Homo sapiens: one gene and its partners. The protein of the gene in region 3 purifies or fractionates together with the protein of the main gene of each other region. This does not show direct contact. Each region holds a gene or a part of one and is shown on either strand. Other genes may lie near its edges.

The links.
Region 1: the proteins of BHMT2 (region 3) and INPPL1 purify together in Homo sapiens (affinity purification with mass spectrometry; 3 studies listed by BioGRID and IntAct, with this or other methods). This does not show direct contact.
Region 2: the proteins of BHMT2 (region 3) and GAPDHS purify together in Homo sapiens (affinity purification with mass spectrometry; one large-scale study listed by BioGRID and IntAct). This does not show direct contact.

What each region holds. Positions count from the first base shown.
Region 1 is NC_000011.10:72,231,267-72,234,910, forward strand, and holds part of INPPL1 (phosphatidylinositol 3,4,5-trisphosphate 5-phosphatase 2), read left to right. Parts: intron 1-231; coding exon 232-349; intron 350-973; coding exon 974-1,070; intron 1,071-1,359; coding exon 1,360-1,498; intron 1,499-1,608; coding exon 1,609-1,708; intron 1,709-1,808; coding exon 1,809-1,897; intron 1,898-2,174; coding exon 2,175-2,256; intron 2,257-2,388; coding exon 2,389-2,478; intron 2,479-3,014; coding exon 3,015-3,128; intron 3,129-3,260; coding exon 3,261-3,349; intron 3,350-3,644. UniProt on the Homo sapiens protein: Phosphatidylinositol (PtdIns) phosphatase that specifically hydrolyzes the 5-phosphate of phosphatidylinositol-3,4,5-trisphosphate (PtdIns(3,4,5)P3) to produce PtdIns(3,4)P2, thereby negatively regulating the PI3K (phosphoinositide 3-kinase) pathways.
Region 2 is NC_000019.10:35,532,010-35,536,301, forward strand, and holds the start of GAPDHS (glyceraldehyde-3-phosphate dehydrogenase, testis-specific), read left to right. Parts: upstream 1-1,446; 5' UTR 1,447-1,518; coding exon 1,519-1,585; intron 1,586-4,292. UniProt on the Homo sapiens protein: May play an important role in regulating the switch between different pathways for energy production during spermiogenesis and in the spermatozoon. Required for sperm motility and male fertility.
Region 3 is NC_000005.10:79,068,531-79,072,600, forward strand, and holds the start of BHMT2 (S-methylmethionine--homocysteine S-methyltransferase BHMT2), read left to right. Parts: upstream 1-1,236; 5' UTR 1,237-1,252; coding exon 1,253-1,285; intron 1,286-4,070. Other genes in the region: DMGDH (dimethylglycine dehydrogenase, mitochondrial precursor), read right to left, coding at 990-1,090.

The DNA of each region.
Region 1 (3,644 bases), on a different chromosome or scaffold from region 3:
CCCTGGGAGCACAGCTTCACTGGCTTTTTCTCTGGTCCCTGAGCATATCCTTTGGGAGATCTGACCTGAGTCCTTCATGCCACGAGAGGAACCATTTCTCTCCAGTCCGTCAGGAAGAGGGGTGGCAAGCCTTCCTACCCTGTGATGGACACAAAAGTCTATTTATAGTGCAGGGGGAAATGCAGGCAGTGGGTGCAGCAGGGCAGTGGTGACCATGCACTCTCTACCCAGATTGCCATGCAATCACTGTGGAATATCAAGGTGGCAGTGCTGGTCAAGCCAGAGCACGAGAACCGTATCAGCCATGTCAGTACGTCCAGTGTGAAGACTGGCATCGCCAACACCCTGGGTAAGTGGGGCTGGCAGGTGCCCAAGAGTGGCAGCGTCTCTCTGTCCATGGCTTCTGCTTCCTCTCAAGCCTAGGATTGCCCCATTTTTGGTGATCTTAGTTTCCCCATATATAGGGTACTTTGAACTTTGAAAAACATATTCATATTCTAAATCTCTCCCAGCACCACTGGGAAGGCAAGGCCAGGATAATTACCCCCTTTTCACAGATGATAAAACTCAAACCCAGAGTGGTTGAGTGACCTGCCCAAGGTCACACAGCAAGTAAGTGGTGGAGCCAGGCATTGTGCCCAGGTCTCCTGATTTTCGGTCTGGTGCTCTCCCAGGTAGATTCTGCGCAGAATCTGCAGGGCCTTTCAGCTTCACCCTTGGGGTCCCCTGTGATCTCCAGGGGCTCTGCTCACACATACAGACAGACTCAGGCCATCCACACAGACCATGTGTGCCCAATGAGGACCCCCCCCTCCCCCAGGGAAGGTGTGGGTGTGTGCAGGGGCCTGCCCATGTCACAGCGTCTGGTGGGCTCAGCGGGAGGATCCTCTCACTGCAGCTTTGAGAGGCAGAAGGGAGAGTTGGGAGCCCTCTGAGGATGACCCAGGCCTTCCTCTCTTGCTTGCCTTAACAGGGAACAAGGGGGCTGTGGGCGTCTCCTTCATGTTTAATGGCACCTCATTTGGCTTTGTGAATTGTCACCTCACCTCGGGAAATGAGAAGACGGCTCGGTGAGGGGGCGCCTTTCCCATGGTCTCTTTACACCCATCCCATTCACCTGAGGCCTGTTCCCGCTCCCATACCCTAGCCCATGACCCTCCCGCAGGCCTGTCTCCAGAGACCCCCTGCTCTCTTATCCCAATTCAAGACCCTTCTGTTCCTGACCCTAACCTTGTCCCCAGGGGCCCGGATCTTTACCCCATCCCTGACTCCTGAGACTTCTTCCCTTTATGCCTATCCCTGACTTCTGGCCCTGACCCTGGGGATCTACCCCTCCCCACCACGCACCCCTCACCCTAGGAGGAACCAAAACTACTTGGACATCCTGCGGCTGCTCTCGCTGGGCGACCGGCAGCTCAATGCCTTTGACATCTCTCTGCGTTTCACACACCTCTTCTGGTTTGGGGACCTCAACTACCGCCTGGACATGGATATCCAGGTGCGAGCAGGGCCCTGCCATGGCTGTAGGGAGGCTAAGGGCCACATGGGCTATCACCCCTGGCTCTGGCTCCGGAGGAATGTTTCTAGCCTTTGTGTCCTCCACCCCAGGAGATCCTGAACTACATCAGCAGGAAAGAGTTTGAGCCCCTCCTCAGGGTGGACCAGCTCAACCTGGAGCGGGAGAAGCACAAGGTCTTCCTTCGATTCAGTGAGTGTGGGCCTGGTAGGTGGTGATCTGAGGGCTAGGAGACTTGCAGTATCCCTGGGTGTCAGGGCCCTGAACCCCACCTGTCTCCTGCTTTCCTTAGGTGAGGAGGAGATCTCCTTCCCACCCACCTACCGCTATGAGCGGGGTTCCCGGGACACATATGCCTGGCACAAGCAGAAGCCAACTGGGGTGAGCCAAGAAAACGGCATGGGCCTTGGGGGACCGCAGGCCTGCGATGAATCAAGAATTTGGGTCAAGGGTATGGGCCTCTGCAGCTTCCACTCCAGCCTCCATGGCCCCTCTGAGGCCTTTGGGTGATCCTGGGTATTTTGAGGATCCAAGAAGGGAGGTGGGTGCTAGGGCCTCTAGTAATAGAAGTGTGGGGACTCATCAGCTCTGGAGTGGGGTCCATGCCAAGCAGCCTCCTAGCTGTCAGCTCTAACCATGCTGCCATCCCCTGCCCCAGGTCCGGACCAATGTGCCCTCATGGTGTGACCGGATTCTGTGGAAATCCTACCCTGAAACTCACATCATCTGCAATTCTTATGGTCAGAGCCTCCCGGACAGAGTGATGGGAGATCTGGGGTGGTCACCATCTGGACTCTGCCCTAACCTTGGGAGGTGGGAGCCGAGGGTGGGAATATTCCCCCTGAGTCCCCATTCCTATCCCCTCTCCCCAGGTTGCACTGATGACATCGTCACCAGCGACCATTCCCCCGTGTTTGGGACATTTGAGGTTGGAGTTACCTCCCAGTTCATCTCCAAGAAAGGTGACTGTTCCAGATATGCTTGTGGGTGTGGCATAATCTAGGTGGGCACAGGTGGTGGCCTCGGGATGTACATAGGTTTGACTATGTAAGTGTGTGTGTGGGTGTGTGTACCAGTGAGTGCAGGAGTGTTTCTCAAGGTGTGATGTGTCAGGGTGTCTGTGCGCCTGGGCCATCACAAGAGTTGTGTGCCCATGAGTGTGTGTGCATACGTGAGTGTACACCTATCTATGTGTCTGTGTCTGTCTAGGGCCACGTGTGTGTCCCTGAGTATGCCTGTAGGTGTGGGAATCCTGCAGGCATTCTGGTCCCCAGCACCCTCTTCAATGGGTTTTTTATCCTTGGGTTGTCTCTTTGCTCTGGTCCAGGGTCTGGCCTCTGGAGATTCCCTGTTGGTGGCTTGGGACTGGGGAGGCCCCTCCTGGCCCTGCCTCCTTGCTCTGGACCCCTGATTTCCTGTCCCAGGGCCCTGTTTCTCTGTCCCATTCCTCCTGTGATCCTCTCAGTCCTCCTGTTTGTTCTCCTCCCTTTCTCCTCAGGGCTCTCAAAGACTTCAGACCAGGCCTACATTGAGTTTGAGAGCATCGAGGCCATTGTGAAGACAGCCAGCCGCACCAAGTTCTTCATCGAGTTCTACTCTACCTGCCTGGAGGGTCAGAGGCGTGGCAGGGGCTGGGTGTGGGCCAAGGAGGATGGGAGGCAAGAGGGTGCAGTCAGCCCCCTACTTAGGGGGAAAGGAAGCTGAGAGGTGGTGCTCAGTTGGGTGTCTCCCACCCCCACCCCAGAATACAAGAAGAGCTTTGAGAATGATGCCCAGAGCAGTGACAACATCAACTTCCTCAAAGTGCAGTGGTCTTCACGCCAGCTGCCCACGGTGAGGCTGTGGGCAGGGCCCCTGCTTATGGGTGAGGGCACAGAGAGGGGTACATAAGAGTTTATTGGAGAGCCTGCCTGGGAGGGAGTGTGGGGCCAGCAGAGAGAGAGAGAGAGAGTGTGTGTGTGTGTGTGTGTGTGTGTGTGTGTATGGGCATGGGCATGAGTGAGGATAAAGGCGTTTGCTTTATTTTGGGAGTGTGGAACCTTGTTGCAGTTTGTTCATTCATTCAGGAGATGCTTCTTGAGCTTTTGCTAGATGTCAGGTCCTGTGTTAGCTATTGAGAAAATTAATT
Region 2 (4,292 bases), on a different chromosome or scaffold from region 3:
TGAGATCGCACCATTGCACTCCAGCCTAGGCAACAAGAGCGAAACTCTGTCTCAAAAAAAAGAAAAGAAAAGAAAAGATTAGCGATCAGATGAAACCTGAGGAATTGACATTTATTCATTCAGGTATAGTTTATTGGGCTAACGCCTTTTTCAGACAGGGTCTTGCTCTGTCTCCCAGCTGGAGTGCAGTGACACAATCACAGCTCACTGCAGCCTTGACCTCCTAGGCTCAAGTGATCCTCCCACCTCAGCCTCCCTAATAATTGGGACAACAGGCATGCACCACCACACCTGGCTACTTTTTTTATTTTTTGTAGATACAGGGTTTTGCCACATTGCCCATGTTGGTCTCAAACTCCTGGACTCAAATGATCCTCCCACCTCAGCCTCCCAAAGTGTTGGGATTACAGGCATGAGCCACTGCGTCCAGCCCACAAACACCTTTCAGGTGCCAAACACTTTTCTTGTCAATGGGATACAGAAGTGACATAGATGACGTCCCTGTCCTCTCAGAGCTTACAGTCTGGTGGACAGAGACAGTTGGCAAGAAAACAAACAATTTTTAGAGAGACATGTGCTCTAAGGAAAATAAAAACATAGACAGTGTAGCCCTAGAGAAATTTTGCACACTGAAGCATAACTCAGAATGGAGAAGTCAGACAAGGCTTCCTGGAAGATGGGCAGAAATTGGGAAGGGGGTGACGGCTGACAGTGACAGAGAAAGGAGGGAACTTAGATGCAGAGTGTAGAAAGCCTCTCTTAAAGGGTGGGAAACCAAGAGGCAGCCAAGGGAAGCCCTGGGTGGGCCTTCCAGGCATACGGAGGCAGCAAGAGTCACTCCACTGGAGAATCCAAGGGACAGCATGGAACCTGTGTGCTTCAAGAGACAGAGAAGAGGAAAGGGCTTTCAGGAACAGTGTAAAAGGTGGGATTCCAGGCTGGGTGTGGTGGCTCGCTCCTGTAATCCCAGCATTTTGGAAGGCCGAGGTGGGAGGATCGCTTGAGCCCAAGGGTTCTAGACCAGCCTGAGCAAAAGAGTGAGACCCTCTCTCTACAAAAAAATAAAAAGTAAAAATAGCCTGCAGTGGTGGCTGCACATGTAGTCCCAGCTACTCAGGAGGCCGAGGCGGGAGGATCGCTTGAGCCCAGGAGTTCAAGGCTGCAGTGAGCCATGATTGCACCACTGCACTCCAGCCTAGGAGAAAGAGTGACACCCCGTCTCAAAATAAATAAACAAATGATAATTTTAAAAAGTGGGATTCCATTCCAGACGGCAGTGCGTGGCCGTGGAACGGTGATGCATAGCGTGCTGACGTCCCATGCCTCTACGGGGATGGGATGCGATGGTGTCAGGCCTCTGGCTTGGGCGCCGCCCCTCGGCGACGTCACTGGGTACTGTGACGTCACTGGGTGCTGTGACATCAGGGCAATTAGCCCAGGACCCACAGCCCTGGCGCTCCGCACGCACCTCGGTAACATCACAGCAGGTCCAGGCCAATGATAACCTTATAAGAGGCCATGTCGAAGCGCGACATCGTCCTCACCAATGTCACCGTTGTCCAGTTGCTGCGACAGCCGTGCCCGGGTGAGGGAGGCAGCGGAGGGCGCGGGGGAGGGGTGGAAAGGGTAGTGGGGAGCGTCTGCACCCTCACACCTGTGCCGTATCCCTACCGCCCTTCCTGGCGTGTGCACCATCTAGGGACCAGGGGATCAGCCGCTCTCCCTCCCTCCACACCCGCCAGTGTGCTGGCAGAGTGGGGTTTACTGCCATGGCGGGGAGACCGGGCCTCCGCCCCCAGGGCTGGGTGGGCTTCGCGCCGCTATCACGCGGTAGAAAGAGCAGAAACGAGGGCCATCGGAGGCTGCAGCCTGAAAGTGGCGGGAAGTGGGCGGGCTTAGGAGGGGCTTAGGGAGAACCCAGGGGTGCTGGGCTTCCATGTAAAAGTGATGTTCATGGCGCTTCGCGTGAGGTGAGCTTTGCCCTCCCTGTGATGCACAAAACAAGGACACTTGGAACCTTGCCGGGGACGTGCTGACCACTTCGCAGGCGAGAGCTCAGGGAAGCCTCACCACCACCTGAGAAGGCCAGAGTGTGCCCGCAGTTTACAGAGCGGCCAACAGAGGTTAAGAGAGGGCAAACTACTTCCTTAGTCTCTCAACAAGGGCGGCGCGCCCGCGCGCGCGCACACACACACACACACACTCACTCACTCACTCTAGCCGGAGGAACCAGGTCTTCCGGTGGGCTGCCTCCATTCCCACACTGTTCCCTCACTTCCCAAGGGCGGGGGCCGCAGGGGTAGGTGGGGCTGGGGCTTTGGTCCAGGAGACCCTGGAAGACACAGGAGCAGACAGGCTTACCAGCCTCATGAGACTTGAACCCCTGCCCTGCGCATCACTGCTCCGTGGCCTCAGGCTTCATTTTCCCCTCTGTAAAGTGGGTTTATAGCGCATGCCTCTCGGGATTCAGTGGGAGGACGCAGTGAGGAGCTGGGGGCAGCACCCAGCTAGCCCCCAGGCTTTTCTCCAACCGGGGGACCCCACCCCTACAGTGGAGGGGAAGAGAGTGCAAGGCTGGGAGTGCTGGGAGAGGAGGACCATCTGAGTTTTCTTCGGAAGGGTCACCCATTGGGCTCAGATTCCCACCTGAACCAGGTGGACAAATCCCCTTTCTCCCATAGCAGAAACAACCCCCAAGGATGCAAACATCCTCAAGTTCACCAATAAACACTAACACCTTCATGAACTTGGACAGCCACTGGAAACACCTATAGTCCAGCCTCAGGCCACAAGGTCTGTGGCAACAGGGAGAGGTCAGGGAGACAGACAGGCCAGCTGGCCCCCGGCTCCCAGCCCCACCACCCCCCAGGTGCCTTTGATTTGGTGCCAAAAACTTGGACTCCCACTACCCCCTTCCAGCCCTTCTCCACCCCCTGCTGTCTCCCTTTCCTCAGGAATCTGTGTAGGATCAGACTTCCCTCCTCTATTAAAATCAGCTCCTATGTGTGGGCCTCGAGATCTCACTGCGCCCTCACAGCAGCCCCTAGGTGGGGGATCAGCCCCAAGAGGTTCATTAACTTGCTCAAATCCACAGAGCAGCAGGTCTGTGTGGACTGAGCCAGGCTTGACTTTCCAGCTTGAAACTCTCTGCCACCAGGTCCCCTGAGTCTCCACTTCTCCCCTCTTCTCAAGCCCTCCTCTGTAGCTCAGGCGGCTGCTACCTCCAGGCGCAGGTGTTTTTAAGTGCAGTCTGGGAGCAGGAGTGTGTGTGGAGAGGTGGGAGCCAATGTGAGCTTCCATGGGTTTCACAGAGTATGATACACGGTACTCTCTAAGCTTCCCTGAGGATAAGAAATGCCTGGAGTGCTTATTTTATTTTTTATTTTTTTTTGGGAGATGGAGTTTCGCTCTTGTTGCCCAGGCTGGAGTGCAGTGGCACGATCTCGCCCACCACAACCTCCGCCTCCTGGGTTCAAGCGATTCTCCTGCTTCAGCCTCCTGAGTAGCTGGGATTACAAGCATGTGCCACCACGCCTGGCTAATTTTTTTGTATTTTTAGTAGAGACGGGGTTTCTGCATGTTGGTCAGACTGGTCTCAAACTCCCAACCTCAGGTGATCTGCCTGCCTCGGCCTCCCAAAGTGCTGGGATTACAGGCGTGAGCCACCGCTCCCGGCCTGGAGTGCTGATTAAAAACAGGATTTCTGGGCCTCCATACAGACCCACTGAGTCCGATTTTTCTAGGAAGAGCCCTCCTCAGGTGATTTTTTTTTTTTTTTGAGACAGAGTCTCACTCTGTCGCCCAGGCTGGAGTGCAGTGGCGCAATCTCGGCTCACTGCACCCTCCGCCTCCCAGGTTCAAGAGATTCTCTTGCCTCAGCCCCCCGAGGAGCTGGGATTACAGTATTTTTAGTAGAGAACAGGTTTCTCCATGTTGGCCAAGCTGGTCTTGAACTCCTGACCTCAAGTGATCCACCCACCTTGGCCTCCCAAAGTGCCAGGATTACAGGTGTGAGCCACCACGCCTGGCCACTCCGACGACTCCTATCATGGAACAGTTTGGGGACCACTGGGCTAAATCAATTATTGGACAAATTCGGGGAACAATCTACAAAATACTAATGCATGTCAAACATTTCCTCGGCTTGGTCATAAGCAATCCATGTATTACCTCATTTAATCCTCACAACAACCCTCTAAGAAAAGTACTATTATCTCCCCTTACAGAGGAGGAAACTGAGGCACAGAGAATGTCACCCCAAGCGATCTATGTTGAAAGTACATACCCCGGCC
Region 3 (4,070 bases):
GTACTGGAGACAAACCTAGCACATCACAACACCCAGTAAATATTTGTTGAATGGATAGATGGAACTCAAAAGCAGGTCTTCTGATTCCAGAATTTCAGGTCATAGGACATAAAATAAAATTCGAATCAACTCATAATAATGTTGAGTGATGCTGATAAACAAGCCTTTCCTGGCAACCAGGAATAATCTACAAATATAAGAAGTCGAAAGATGTTCAGCATTGCTCATATTTAAATACAGACCAATCAAAACAAGGACATGCCATTTTTACCTATCAGATTTAGCAAAGATAACAAAATGGGCTATTCTGGGAACCAGGGAAGATGTGGGAAACAGACACACACTGGTGTGCCGCATGCAAACTCTTGCCACCCACTTGGAGAATGTGTTGCTGTCTTTCAATCTTTCAGATGCACGTAACCTTTTCCCTAACAAGTTCACCTTTAAAAACTGTTGCTACCGACTCCCATATGTACTCAAAGATAGATGCCTAAGAATTTTCACATGCACGTTATTTGCAGTAATAAACAACCAAAAACCATTTAAATGTTAATGAATAGACTAACGATAGTGTAGAATATTGACAGGATGGAAAACTATGCAGCCATTAAAAGGAACAAGGCAAGTCAGTGTGTGCTGATATGGAACAATCTCCAAGATATATTGATAATTGTAAAAAGCAAGATGTCAAAAAGCCAAAGGAAAACCTATACTGACCTGTGTTTGCCTATGCGTAGACTGTCTCTGGTTAGATTCAGAAGACACTATTAACAATTGTTCACTGGCCAAGGGGATTGGGGCAGGAGAGACTTTACACGGGGAACCTTTGGATACTGTTTCACTTTATAATTAAAAGATAATTCGAGAAGATATATCAAGGCCTATTTCTTGGAGGCCAGAGCGCTCCTAACCCCTGAGCCTGCCTCAGCCTCTGGCTCCCACCCCCGCAGCCGCCCCGTCGCCTCTGAGCAGGACGGGGCCCCACTCACCCTTCCCGGCCGCAGACAGAGCGCGGGCGCCCGGGGGAGCCCTGCAGCGGGCAGCTCCGCAGCAGGAGGCCCCGCAGCAGCTGCGCGCCGGGACGGAGCATGACTAGGCCGAGGCCGAGGGCGCAGGCGCCTGCTCCGAGGCCAGCGGGCAGCCTGAGGCCGCGGGGCCGGCGGGGCGGGGGTCGGATCCTCCCCCCGGGCTGGGGGCGGGCTCCTAGACGGCCGCGCGCCCGGGAACCCGGCGCCCACAGAGCCGCGGCACCATGGCACCTGCTGGACGCCCGGGGGCCAAGAAGGTGAGTTTCGTCCCCTCGATCCTCGCGGAGCTCCTGGCCGCTGGGCTGCGAGCGACTCCGTTCACACCCGGCGTCCATCCCTAGCCAAGCCCTGGGGCCTCGGCAAAACACTTGGACGGGATGGCCCTGAGCCTCAATTTTCCCCTGTCACGGGTTGGTTAGCGTTTATGGAGCCCTTACTCGGTGCCTGGCGCTGCACAGAGTGCTGTGCTCAAGTTATCTCCTCATCTTCACAATTATCCCCATTTCACAGGTGAGGAAACTGAGGCTCGGCGAGTCAGGCGACTAGCTCAGGGTCACGGGTCCAGCCCCGCGGGGAGCGAGGATCAGAAGTCTAGCTTTCGGACGCATGTCGCGCACACATTTTCTTCCCTCAACCGACCCTCGCCCGCAGCTCTTTGGGCTAATCCGTCCGGGAACTCTTCGGACTGTCCCCTCGCGTTTTGGAAAAGTCAGCAGCCTGGCCAAGCAGCCTGGCCTTGCGAGTCGCCGGCTGGTCTGAAACTAGTCCTGGGCAAGGACGCCCCCAGAGCTGCGGTGCAGGGTGGAGGGTAGGTGGGATTCGCTAGCACCCCTCAACCTCCTCTCACCCGGTGGTCCCCAGCTCCTGGCCCCTTTCCTGGTCTGGTCACCAGATGTTGGCTTTATGCCCAGCCATTTCTACGTCGAGTATGTGTGGGGGTGGGATGAAGGAGTGACTAAGCAAAATTAGGAAGGGCATGAGCTTGGACGAAAGACATCCCCAGGACCCTTCAGAGACCCCCACCCGCTCCAGCCCTGTCATTCAGAATGGGAGGAAGGGAGGAGGGGCAGTTTATGCGTGGAAATGTGCACCACCGAGCTATTTATACTAAAAAGTTAGAAACGACCAAGATACTCTGCAATACGGGATTCTAAATAAATTAAGGTTCATCTACTTAAGTTATTAGACAGTTAAATAACTTAGTATGAGAACCAGCTAAGTGCCTTGGCAATGTTAAGTTGCAAAAGGAAATATATCACAAACTGATCCCAACCATATACAAATATTTATATACACACTGTAAGGAAGGACACAATAATGGTAATAGTTACACAAGATGTGGAATATTGGTTTAAAAAGCATGTTTTAGGATATTTTTTCAGGTTATAAAAGCAAAATGTGAGCATTGAAAGAATACAGTTAATAAAAATAATCAAAGAACATTGTGCTTTTTTCTCTCAACTTTCTCTAATGCTATGTTCATCTTTACAGTTCATATTTTTAAACGTTTTTAAAATGCCCTGTTTTTGTTCAGTGTCTTTGGGGCCTCTACTGTTACAACACCAAGATTATCACACACTAATCCATGTGAATGTGTACCTGGGAGTTAAGGTGTTAATGGGAAGGAACTAATCTCACCTCTCTCCTCAGCTAGCAGGTACATTTTAAGAATTCATTTAATTGCCACAGACAAGACCTCCAATTAGGTCTTAAATCCAAAAGAGCAGTTCTGCTGGCAAATCTAGGAAAAGGGGAAGTTATTTTAGACAGACTGGGTTTTTCTGATCACCTCCTACTACACAGTGAAGTTGATCCCCACTGAGTATGAATAGAGATGTCTTGAAGCCAGATCTTAAACCCAGAGGTCTTACGTAGTGATATCTGCAAAAAGGGGGCATAAATGCACCCTAGAGCTCGCTGTCAGATGCAAGGCAGGTTCACTGCCAAACTGATGGGGAGGAGGGAATGAAAATATAAATGTACTGCAAAATTAATTTACAGGGTTCCTTATTTTACATGTTCCTGTCTTTATAATTTTACAGTTGACTTTAGATCGTACTAGTATAATGGTGAGGAACAACACACACTGGGGCCTATCGAAGGGTGGAGGGTGGAAGGAGGGAGAGGATCAGGAAAAATAACTAATGGATACTAGGCTTAATACCTGGGTGAGGAAATAACCCATATAGCAAACCTCCAATGATGCACATTTACCTGTGTAACAAACCTGCACATCCTGCACATGTACCCCTGAACTTAAAAGTAAAAAAAAAAAAAAAAAAAAAAACTAAAGAAGGGATCATACTGGTATAGTAATTAATTGAGGTAGTTAGAATAGCAGTGAAGGAAGGGCTAAAAGATGCTCTGATCTCAAATCTTGATAACTTAGTTATTTTGCTAATGGCTATGTAGAAAAATGGCAAATTGGCCGGGCACAGTGGCTCACACCTGTAATCCTAGCACTTTGGGAGGCCGAGGCAGGCAGATCATCTAAGGTCAGGAGTTCGAGACCACACTGGACAACATGGTGAAACCCTGTCTCTACTAAAAAATACAAAATTAGCTGGGCATGGTGGCATGCACCTATAATCCCAGCTACTTGCGAGGCTGAGGCAGGAGAATTGCTTGAACCCTGGAGGTGGAGGTTGCAGTGAGCTGAGATCGCGCTACTGCACTCCAGCCTGGGCGACAAGAGTGAAACTCTGTCTCAAAAAAAAAAAGAAAGAAAAGAAAAGAAAAATGGCAAATTTAAAATGGTGGACAAACATCCAGATAACAAATGAAAATGTCCTCCCTTTACTTGGTTTCATAAAGACACAGTCAAAATATATACTACAATTTTCTTAAAACCTACCTAATTGTCTGCTAAAGAGTAACATTTTTTCTTCTTCAGGACAAAAATTCTAGCATATGCAATACATCTGACATTTTCAAAACAGTCCTGTTTATTTGCTAATTCTTGGCATAGTTTCTTAAGTGTCTACTCATTTTAGTTGTTATATGTGGTGGTAGGGATATAGACCAATAAGATATGTCACCTGC